Homo sapiens: one gene and its partners. The protein of the gene in region 1 interacts with the protein of each later gene in a pairwise test. Each region holds a gene or a part of one and is shown on either strand. Other genes may lie near its edges. The genes, in order: FOSL2, LHX8 and ATF7.

Region 1 (3,753 bases):
GGGACGAGGAGGAACTGGTGGATTTTTCTGTCATTGCTCCAAGTGTGAACAAAATTGTTCTGTGGTCCTAAGGACTGACCTCAGAGGCTTTTGTTCCTTCACAAGTCTATGCTATGACCTTGCCCGATCTTGGGCTCAAGGTAACTTTACTACATACCAGATAAAACCTGTAATCACTTTATTTCTCTCCGCTTCCTGTACTGGAAGACTTTCCTGGCAATTAGTGGATGGGCCTTTCTCTTTTATGGCATCTCAGTGGACCGATCCATATGAGACAGTTCTCTGGTTTTTCTCTGGGGAAGTGAATTTTATTTTTTTCAGCTCTCTCTTTTGGGGGTCCAATATTCCTGATTAGTTTGTTGCCAGTTCTTCAACCCAGAGCTTTCCCGTCCTCTCTAGCTTCATGAAGCTGGATCTTAATACATGGCCATGAGCTCCAGTGACTTTGGGGGTGGGGGGAGCAGACTAGTCTTTGTTACAGCCTCTGTTCTTATATATGGCAGGAACTTGAGGCATGAAAAATATTTCCTGTTCCAGTTATAGTTTTAATCTCAAAGGTTGGTCATTGGTGATTTTGTTTTGTCAGTAACCGTTGCACACACCTCCCCTTCTTGGATTTTTCTTTTTGCTGTTGTTTTTTCTCTCCTAACTTTCCTAGGAAAACATCTCCCAGATATATGCCCTGCCTGGCTGCTTGACTATTACGGTTTCAGGGCCTGAGCATTACGCAATCCAGCCAGTTACACAAACATAGGTCATTTCATAACTTGTTTTCATCAGCTGGGCCCCCTTTTAATGAAAAAACAAAACAAAAACAAGACCTAGAACTTTTCCAAGGCTGCTATTTGTTTCTCAGATAACTTGTGAAAATAAATCAAGGGCAGTATTTCCTTTTTGGAGTTAAGGAATACCAGACTAGCACTCTTCTTCCTCAACCACCCCTTCCCAAGACACACACACACACACACACACACACACACACACACACACACACACACAAAATTCCCCAGAGTGAACTTTTGCCAACTGTACCAGACTGGGACATTCCTCACATCAAAGAACTTTTACCAGAAATGACTGTGATTCCCAAGCTAGCCTCAATCATACCTCTCTAGTGCCCTCTACGGGAAATTTTTAGGAAAACTATCTTGGGAATGTATTTTTCCAGTCCCAGAGAGTGTTAAATTGGTGAGTTTGGAATTCTTAGGATGCTTTTTCTTTTTAATGAGGGACAAATAAATGCCACATATTTAACCGTGGTTAACTAGGAACTGCTTGACTTTGAGTTTCTTTTTTGTTTTCTTCTAAATAAAACCTGGTTAAAAAAGGAGTGCTTTTTCGTTGTGCACAAGTACCCTAGAACTTAAAGTATAATAAAAAATAAAAATAAAAAAAGGAGTGCTTTTTTCTTTTCCTATTTTGATGTCTGTCTATTCATTAGGTTGCCTTCACAGTTTGTTCAAATTCCCAAGGCATGTTTTCCTATGTGCTTATATTAGGAGGGGGCTTGTTCAGTTGGTGGGAATGTGGGAGGCATAGATTAAGGGTCTGGGTGCTTTTTTTTTTCCCCTTGATGTTACAGATGTTGTAGATTAGGATCAAACAAAATGTTATCCCAAGAATTTGTCTGTTCCGCTGATTCTTGATGGTGGAAGTCAGCTTCACTTTTTCATCAAAGGGAATGGGGTGAAATAGCAGTCATGTATTGTCTGAAAGGCATTTGAATTTTCCTATCCAAAACGCTGAGTGCATTTCCACTACCCATTTCTGCTTCTGCCTGTCTTATTATTCAAGGTGAGGGTAAAATTGGGAGACTTGTTTTTTCTTCTCTATCTTAATACAAACACAGCAGAACTTATTCATCCTTGTCACTGTCATCCCCTTCCTTGTTTTTTCCTTGGGGAGACTAAATGCTTATCTGAATGCTGCGGCTATGCTTAGACTCAGAAAGGTTTTGCAGTACCCCCTCTTTTGCAGTTGCTTTCAGCGTATTCTTTTGAAAATCCTCCCTACTAACAAATCTTTGTCCTTTGAAGGGTGAATTTGATATTTGGAAATTACCAAAAGCCTCTTTGGAGCCGAGTCTGACATACAAGTCTGGATGATCAGGCTGAGGCCAAAGTAGGGTGTGACCCTGTGTCCTGCAGGCCTCTAGAGTCTACCTGGGAGAGCATGCCCACGACAAAGGACACCAAAGCAGGCACCTTTGCCGTCAATAACTTGGATTTTTTTTCTCATTTGTTAGATAGGAATAAAGATACTGGTTGTGAGAATTAAGGAGACGAACGTTCCGGTCTATTTGTTGAAACAAAGAAAAAAATAGCATCATTACTTTGTGGATATGTCTCATCTATGTTGTATGTGGTGTCTTTTGGTGGCCACAGTATTTCAAAATGACAGCAGCTGCCCTGATTGAGGCAAATATATCTGTTCCAAACCCCATCTGGTAATTCTATCCCTTCTCCACTCCCTGGGCCAGAGAGGGAAGGTATAAGATTTCTCCTGGCCCACCTGGTCTCTCGGCCCTGTCCCGTGGCAGTGAGACTTTCCTAGGCTCACCTTCCGGTGGCTTTAATGGAGGATGAGAGGACGTGTCATTCCCATGGAGTACAGAGCCGCCAGGGAGCTGTGGGGGCTCCAAAGGGGCCCACACACTAGTGGAGTGAATTCCCCAGTGCTTTGGAGTGGCGCTTCTGGCCAAAAGGGCCCTGGCAGGGAAGCAGCTGGGGAGCCTGGACGAGGGCTAAGGCCTTCTCTTTCTGTTTCTTTCCTTCCCTGCTTCTCTTCCCCCTGGCAGGCAGCCAGGTGGAGGAGGATAGAGTAAGTCTTTCAAGGGAACCCAGGAAAGCGTGGAGGCTGAAGGGAGGCGAGTCACCTAAGACAGCATTTATAAACTGTAACGCTTTGGGAAATCACAACTTATTAGCAACAGTTTCCATTGTGACATAGTGGTATTTCTTCAGAGAGGAATGAAATGTCAGAGGTCAAAGTGATGTTCAACGCAGAACCTGTGAAGAATGGTTAAATTCCTTATGGAAGGCTTTGGGGAACATCCCAGGTTCAGTAAAAATACAGAGTATTTGCGTTAAACTGGACCTCAGTGGGGATGTGATGGGAGGTATGAGACAGATTGTGCCCTTATCCTTTTCTCTTCTTGGGAGCCAATCTTCTAGGATGTTGGAATTGTCCCTTTTCCATCCTGGGAATCTAAAGAAAGGGTTCTTAAAGGGAAAGAACCCAGTCCCTTCCTAGATACACTCAATCATACCTGCTTGCCTGGCAAGGCAGTTTACAGAGTCCACAGGGCTTCATGGCTTGAATGCTTGATAACCCAGACAAAAATCTATCTGATGGAGAATCGCCTGGCCAAGGGGCTGGGCCAAGAACCCCAACCCTGACTTCCATCTCACATACCAGTTCTGCCCACTCACGAGTCTCTGGGATAAGCCCTCGGCCCCATCCGGTCCTGTAGGGGCCCAAACCCTAGTTCCAATACCTGTCAGCAAAAAGCCATGGGTTCATAGCTGAAGCCAAGGCTCCAGTATAGAGTCTCAGGAGGCAGTTTTCCCAAATCAGCAACTGTTGTGGGGGGAACTTCTCTGACCTGCTGAGGTTTGGTGGCCCTAGAGGGTCCGTGTTTTCGGCCGTCTTTCTCATTGGCAGTGGAAGGAGCACACGCATCCTTCCCAAGCAGCCCGGTGGCACCCTAGCAACAGGGTACAGCAGGGTGATGGGAGTTTCCATGCCCAAAGA
Region 2 (3,753 bases), on another chromosome or scaffold:
ACAGCTGGTGTGCCTTCCTAGGGAGGTTCTGCAAACACTGCAGGAGAGACACCGGACATGCCAGCATAGGTCATTCACCTGTGAAGGGAAGAGAAGCCATTGTAATATCATATTTAAGAAAAGTATTCATTGGTTTTGTGTATTGGGCAATTTAAAAAACTGGCCCCTTAATATATTAACACATGCTCTGAATGTTTTCATCCAAAAGATGTCATTTTTTTTTAAGATGTCATTTTTGTAAACATGTATCTGGATATATTATCTTTTAGACCTCAACCAAAAATTTATACTAATATATGCCACATTTTGTGTTTATAATATTTTCTATTCCTTTGAAGAATTCAGGTTGCTTTTTCTTTCTTTCTTAAATGGAATCTTTATGAACACAGGGAATAGTTTGGTTACTTTAAAGTCCTACATACAGGTTTTTTTTGTTATATTTTACCAAGTTCTTCCCAGCATGAAACCTTGTGGTTAAAGAAGACAAAACACATACTCTCTCAACCTATTTTTTGGCTAAACAATTATAAACTGTATACCTCCTAAACAGAGCAATAAAGAAAGTGAAAATGCAGGTTTATAAGATAGTTACCTATACAGGACAGAAATTGCTCAGATAAATTTAAATGTTGATGTAGCAGAAGCCCGGGTTCTCTTCTAATATTAAACAGCTGAACAGAAACAATAGAAATAAGTAGAAAAGTATATTGGTAAAACTGCTTACTGATTTGGCTACAGGAGAAAAAAATAAATCTAATCATAAGTGGTTCTAAAAAAGCACTCAAGCACTGTTTTCCACTTACACTTCAAGTAGTAAAACATAAGATGGTGTTTAATAAGGCCAGTATTTTATACTTTCTAAATAGGAACATGAAATATTGTCAATCCAGGGAACAAGTCATAATTACTCTTACTTTAAACTGTTGCCATTATATTACAAGCGCTACAACTTTAGCCCTGGAGTATGAAGATGTGTATTAGATAGAACTGGCTTGCATGCAATGCAGGCTCCCAAAGTTTGCTCTTGTTAAGTGGACACAAGAACCTGATTTATGCTTAATTGAATTTCATGTAAAAGAACAGTAACATACAAAAACACCAATTACACCCTAAAAATGGATCCAATGACTAAAATAGGAAAGTAAATGACTGTGAGATATGGCTTTTGCTCAACTATTCCATAATAAAGACTATGTGTCTATCGAATTAGAACTACGGTCCAACATGTTTTTCTGCAATATATAAAAGGTACTTCGAAGCTGAAAGTTTTACTGACTTCTAATTACAGTTATGTGTCTCTTTCCAAAGCATTAATGAGAGTCTCATTTTGATGACATTCAAAAAGTTTTGGTCTTTACAAGAACTTAGAACTTACATGCTCACTATAGACAATATTTAAAATAATGAAAACAGAAAGAAATCTGAGGAAATCTGAATAAATAATATTAACAATGTTAAATACTGCCTTGGAAATAAAAAAAGCATTTTCCTTATATTTTTTTCCTAAAATGGGACCAACCAGTATAAAGTTTAGATGAACAGGCTTCCTTTAAAATTCCACTGTTTAGGGCCTTCTGTATTTCAATCTTACCCAGGATTTTGTTTTGTTTTGTTTTTAAAGCTAGGCTTTAGGGGAAGAGCCATGGCCTCTCTCTTACTCCCTCCTAAAGCCAGACCTGGTTGTCACGTTTTTTCAAAGTTCACTTCCCTCCTAAAATGTCTGTTTATCTTCCATTTCTTTGCCAGGGAGTAAAGTAAGGTGAAGAGAGGAGATTCTGGAGACTATAAACCTACTATTAATCTAATCTGTGTATGTCTAAACATACAACTTGGACCAAGCCAGAAAAACTACCCGAAGGACAGAGCACTGAAGTTATTGGACAAGGTAATCAATGCATCTAACTCCTGTCATACTTTTCTAACTCCATTTTATTTGCCTCACAAGATAGTGTTTTTCTATATTAGTTACACCCTAAAATAATATTTCTATACTAGGTCTAACTTTTTTTTTTAAATCAGTGACTCAAGTTAAACTCAAACTTTTCTGCAGGAAGTACTCAAAACGGAAAATAAAGGTTAATAATTCAGTTTTTGTCAATCATATAGTATCAAACTTTAGTTAGAAATTACACACTAAAGAATACAAGAAGTGGTACAATAATACTGTACATGGAAGGCTTCATTGGGAGGACTCCTGCCCTATTACAAAGGAAAGCTTTATGTAACTCACTTAACTTAGATTTTTATGCAATACAAAGATATATAATATATAAATGTATACAAGATTAACACTAGAAACTATTATCTATTTCAGAGGTTGTGTTAAATGTCACTTCATCATAACCCTTCTATATCTTCTCTGCTGTGAAGTGTTAGAGCCTTCATAGGTCTACTCAGAAACATTCTTAAAGATTACGGTAATTATTGAGAGGGCTCATTAAAAATAGGATGCTAGTTTTAACCCAAAAGATGATTTTGCAATATCCAAAATGCTCAGTTTTAGAAACATTGAAAGTGGAATCTTAAGAATGCAGATTTAAAGAGAAAGCCAATGTTAATTTGCCAGCTTTAAGAATCAACCACCAAGTAAGATTAATTTAGTCATTTTTAAATCTTTTTACCAAAACTTCTTCTGGCATTTTCTCTAGGTTTTATCTATAGGGTAGCATTCCCATTTTACAGATGAAGAAGCTTTGTATGTTGAGGTAGAAACTTAAAGAAACCCACTAACACGAATTTTGAACACATACTCTCCATAATTAATCCTTTTGAAAACCTAAGCAGGGTGGGGAGAGAATAGAAAGTGAACTGGTTTGCTACTAATTCAGTGTAGGAGAGACCATTATTTTAAATAGTGGTTTTAAAAAGCTATTTAAGTTGAAACCCCATGATATTCTGATTAAGACACATGGGACCATGATCTGCACTGAGGTGGATAACTGTGGCCTGCCAAAATTTCTACTCCAAAATTCCCCCACAATATTTTAAGAGAAAAGTAAAACAAATTAAGACAATCAACTCTCAAACCACACTTGAAACACTTCTTCCCAGGCTGTGTGTGTCTAACTTTATATCAATTTCCATTTTCTCCCCAAGCACTCAAGATGATGTAACAACAGCATTGAGTGGCCTAGAAGTATTAAACCTTAATAAGAGCAGGAATATATTGAAATGGTTTTTATTTAAATGGACCTATAAACTTTAACTTTGGAAAAGCCTCAGGTAACTGTAAAAAAACATAGGACTGTATTTTTAAAATTTGTCCAGAAAAGATCCTTTAAGCTACTTTACAGTGGCTTTCACCAAAAGAGACACTGCAAAAGGGAATCAGTTAATACATACCAACTTAAAATTCTTCTAAGCAGTCATGGGCGTGGGCGTCACTGGGGTGGAGAGACCACAGTCCGTTTAGAGGGAACAAAGATGTTTAAGAAAGGAATAATTCGGGGCTGGGTGAAAAATAACTAAGCAGGTTTCTGTCTCAGAATGGATAAGGGTTTTTCCACTTCCCTTCCACTACAAGCCAGTGGCTGACTCCAGCGCATCCACACACATCCGGCGCGTCCAGACCAGGATGTGTCACACATTAGCTGTTTTGCAACGACATAGAAGAGTCTGGGATTTCTTCTCACTTTATCCCACCGCATGAGTTGCCCTAAACTGGGCTGATTTTCTGCAAAAGCCTACAACCTTCACCCAGAACTTGAACGGAAAGGTTGGTGGGAGGAACATTACTCTTTTCCCAGAGCTCCC
Region 3 (3,753 bases), on another chromosome or scaffold:
TTTCTCAGAAAATGGTCCTACGATTTTGGAGTTCATGAAAAAGTCTTCTGTCTCTTTAAAAATATGTCAAAGAAAATAATTTTTAAGCTTCTCTGACATTTACTCATTTTGACATGTTGCCTTCCCCTAAGGTTTTTTTAGGAGGGATCAAATAAATTTATGATATGTGAAAACACATCAGAGTTGGTATGATGTGTTAAAAGACGGTTGGTCTTTTGACTTTTGAATACTCTAAGGAGAAAGTCTCCACTTCACAGATACCCTGTTCCATTATTGGAGCTTTACTTTTAGAACATTTTTTACATTGTGCTGAAGCTCTTTAGCTCTGTTATCTGAAGCCACAATAAATAAATCTAGTTCCTTGTTAACATGGTAGTCTTCAAGTATTTCATGACACTTATCGCTTTCATTCTTTTAGAGACAGGGTCTCGCTATGTTGCCCAGGCTAGAGTGCAAGTGACGTGATCACAGATCATTGTAACCTCGAACTCCTAGGCTAAAGTTATCTTCTAGTCCTAGCTTCCTGAGTAACTAGGACTCTTGGCCTCAAGCAGTCCTCCCAGCCTCCAAGTAGCTGGGACCACAGGCGCATGCCAACATGCCTGGCTAATTTTTAAATTTTTTGTAGAGATTGGGTCTCCCTGCATTGCCCAGGCTCTTCTGGAATTCCTAGGCTCAAGCCATCTCCCCACCTTGGTCTCTCAAAGTGCTGGGATTACAGGAGGCATCTCTTCTGGGGTAAATACCCCAAGTTCTTTAAGCTATTTTTTTTTTTTTTTTTGAGACGCAATTTCGCACTTTTGCCCTGGCTGGAGTGCAGAGTCTCGCGCTTTTGCCCTGGCTGGAGTGCAGTGGCACAATCTCAGCTCACTGCAAGCCCCGCCTCCCAGGTTCACGCCATTCTCCTGCCTCAACCTCCCGAGTAGCTGGGACTAGCAGGCGCCCGCCACCATGCCTGACTAATTTTTTGTATTTTTAGTAGAGACGGAGTTTCACCGTGTTAGCCAGGATGGTCTCAATATCCTGACCACGTGATCTGCCCTCCTCGGCCTCTCAAAGTGCTGGGATTACAGGTGTGAGCCACCACGCCCGGCCAGCTATTTCTATTATTATTATTATTATTATTATTTTTGAGATGGAGTCTTGCTGTGTTTCCCAGACTGGAGTGCAGTGGTGCGATCTCAGCTCACTACAACCTCCAACTTCCGGTTTCAAGCGATTCTTGTCCCTTAGCCTCCTGAGTAGCTGGGAGTACAGGTGCCCGCCATCCATGCCTAGCTAATTTTTGTATTTTTAGTAGAGACGGGGTTTCACCATTTTGGCCAGGCTGGTCTTGAACTCTTGACCTCAAGTGATCCGCCTACCTCGGCCTCCCAAAGTGCTGGAATTACAGGCATGAGCCACTGAGCCCAGCCCGTACGATTTCTTAAGTGACATTTTAAATAAAAGATCAGGCTCTTCATCAAGTTAGTTACCTGAGTGGTTTATGGTTCCTCATCTAGGTCTGAACATCTCAGATATAATCTAATAAATACAAACTACGGGGGGAATCACAACTTCTATTTTATTGCACTCTATGCCTCTGTTTTTAAAGCCTAAGATCACATTAGTTTGTGTAGTTGATTTTTTTTTTTTTTTTTTTTTTGAGACAGAGTCTTGCTCTGTCACCCAGGCTGGAATACAGTGGCTCGATCTTGTTTCACTGCAACCTCCGCCTCCCGGGTTCAAGCGATTCTCCTGCCTCAGCCACCAGAGTAGTTGGGATTACAGGCCTGCACCACCACACCCAACTAATTTTTTTTTTTTGTATTTTTAGAAGAGACGGGGTTTCACCATGTTGGCTAGGCTGGTCCCGAACTCCTGACTTTAAGTGATCCACCCACCTTGAACTCCCAAAGTGCTAGGATTACAGGCGTGAGCCACCGCGCCGGCCATGTAGTTGATTTTTTGACAACTTTACATTTATCCCTGTAATTATCATTTTGTTAATTTGGTTTGTTGTTTTAGCTTGATAATGTCATTTCACCTCTTGACCATTTCTCATATGTTTGTATTATTGATAAATTTGATAAACATGATACCTGTGTTTTTGTTTTAGGTCACTGGTAAACATGTATAAGGGTAGAACAATGCTATACAACATGAGTAGACTATCATTATGTTAACATTAACCTGTTAGTCAACTTTTGGATAAAATTCAGTTGTGAATCCCACCTGCCATTTTATATAATCTAACCTTTATTTTCTATGAAATAGCAAGAGGTATCTTGTTGAAATCCAAATGCAGTATATTCTGCCTCTGACATCTCTGAACTCCTAGGCTAGTGACCCTGTCAAAAAAGAAAATGAAGTTGCATATTAGTTGCTGTTTGGGTATCTTATGCTACTGTTTATAGATCACTGCATAACTTGCCAGTGGTTCATAAGTGATCTGTTTAATAATTCATTTAGAATCTTTCTGAGAAATAATATTTCACTAGTCTACGATTTCTGTACTCGACCTCCCTTGCCCCACATTTTAAAAAATTATAATTTTCCCATTTCCAAGACTTCTAGTCCTGTTTTTTTTTCATTTTCAAATAATTATAGAAAATTAACCATATTTCTTCATAGTTGCAGGGATTTTTTGTTGTTATTTTGTTACTGTCTTTTGGTTGTGGTTTTTTTCTTTTTCTTTTTTTTTTTGAGACGAAGTCTCGCTGTGTTCCCCAGGCTAGAGTGCAGTGGCAGGCTTACTGCAACCTCTGCCGCCCAGGTTCAAGCAATTCTCAGGCCTTAGCTTCCCAAGTAGCTGGGATTACAGGCATGTGCCACCACACCTGGCTAATTTTTGTATTTTTTTTTTTTTTTTTTTTTTTGAGACGGAGTCTCGCTCTGTCGCCCAGGCTGGAGTGCAGTGGCGGGATCTCGGCTCACTGCAAGCTCCGCCTCCCGGGTTCACGCCATTCTCCTGCCTCAGCCTCCCAAGTAGCTGGGACTACAGGCGCCCGCCACTACGCCCGGCTAATTTTTTGTATTTTTAGTAGAGACGGGGTTTCACCGTTTTAGCCAGGATGGTCTCGATCTCCTGACCTCGTGATCCGCCCGCCTCGGCCTCCCAAAGTGCTGGGATTACAGGCGTGAGCCACCGCGCCCGGCCTAATTTTTGTATTTTTTTAGTAGATATGGGTTTTCATCATGTTGGCCAGGCTGGTCTTGAACTCCTGACCTCAAGTGATCCACCTACCTCGGCCTCCCAAAGTGCTAGGATTACAGGCGTGAGCCACCGTGCTCGGCCATGGTTTTTTTTTGAGACAGGGTCTTACTCTGTTGCCCAGACTGGAGTACAGTGGCACAATCATGGCTCATACTGCAGCTTCAGTCTCCCAGGCTCAAGCCATCCTCCTACCTCAGCCTCCTGAGTAGCTGAGACTAAAGGCTCATGCCACCATGCCTGGCTAATTTTGTTTATTTTTTGTAGAGGTCTCATCATGTTTCCCAGGCTGGTCTCGAACTGCTGGGCTCAAACAGTCCTCCTGCCTTAGCCTCCCAAAGTGCTGAGATTACACGCATGAGCTACTGTGCCTGGCCAGATTTTTTGACATTAGATGAAATTCTGTTTCGGAAACTTTTTTTTTTTTCTGAGGCAGGGTCTCCCTCTGTCTCCCAGGCTGGAGTGCAATGGCGCCATCTTGGCTCACTGCAGTCTCTGCCTCCTGGGCTCAAGTGATTATCCTGCCTCCGCCTCCTGAGTAGCTAGGACTACAGATGTGC

What was found.
Region 2: the proteins of FOSL2 (region 1) and LHX8 interact in binary tests that used the Homo sapiens proteins (3 or more experiments, as listed by UniProt).
Region 3: the proteins of FOSL2 (region 1) and ATF7 interact in binary tests that used the Homo sapiens proteins (3 or more experiments, as listed by UniProt).

The regions. Positions count from the first base shown.
Region 1 is NC_000002.12:28,395,840-28,399,592, forward strand, and holds part of FOSL2 (fos-related antigen 2), read left to right. Parts: intron 1-3,753.
Region 2 is NC_000001.11:75,137,310-75,141,062, reverse strand, and holds part of LHX8 (LIM/homeobox protein Lhx8), read right to left. Parts: intron 79-3,753; coding exon 1-78. UniProt on the Homo sapiens protein: Transcription factor involved in differentiation of certain neurons and mesenchymal cells.
Region 3 is NC_000012.12:53,619,681-53,623,433, reverse strand, and holds part of ATF7 (cyclic AMP-dependent transcription factor ATF-7), read left to right. Parts: intron 1-3,753. UniProt on the Homo sapiens protein: Stress-responsive chromatin regulator that plays a role in various biological processes including innate immunological memory, adipocyte differentiation or telomerase regulation.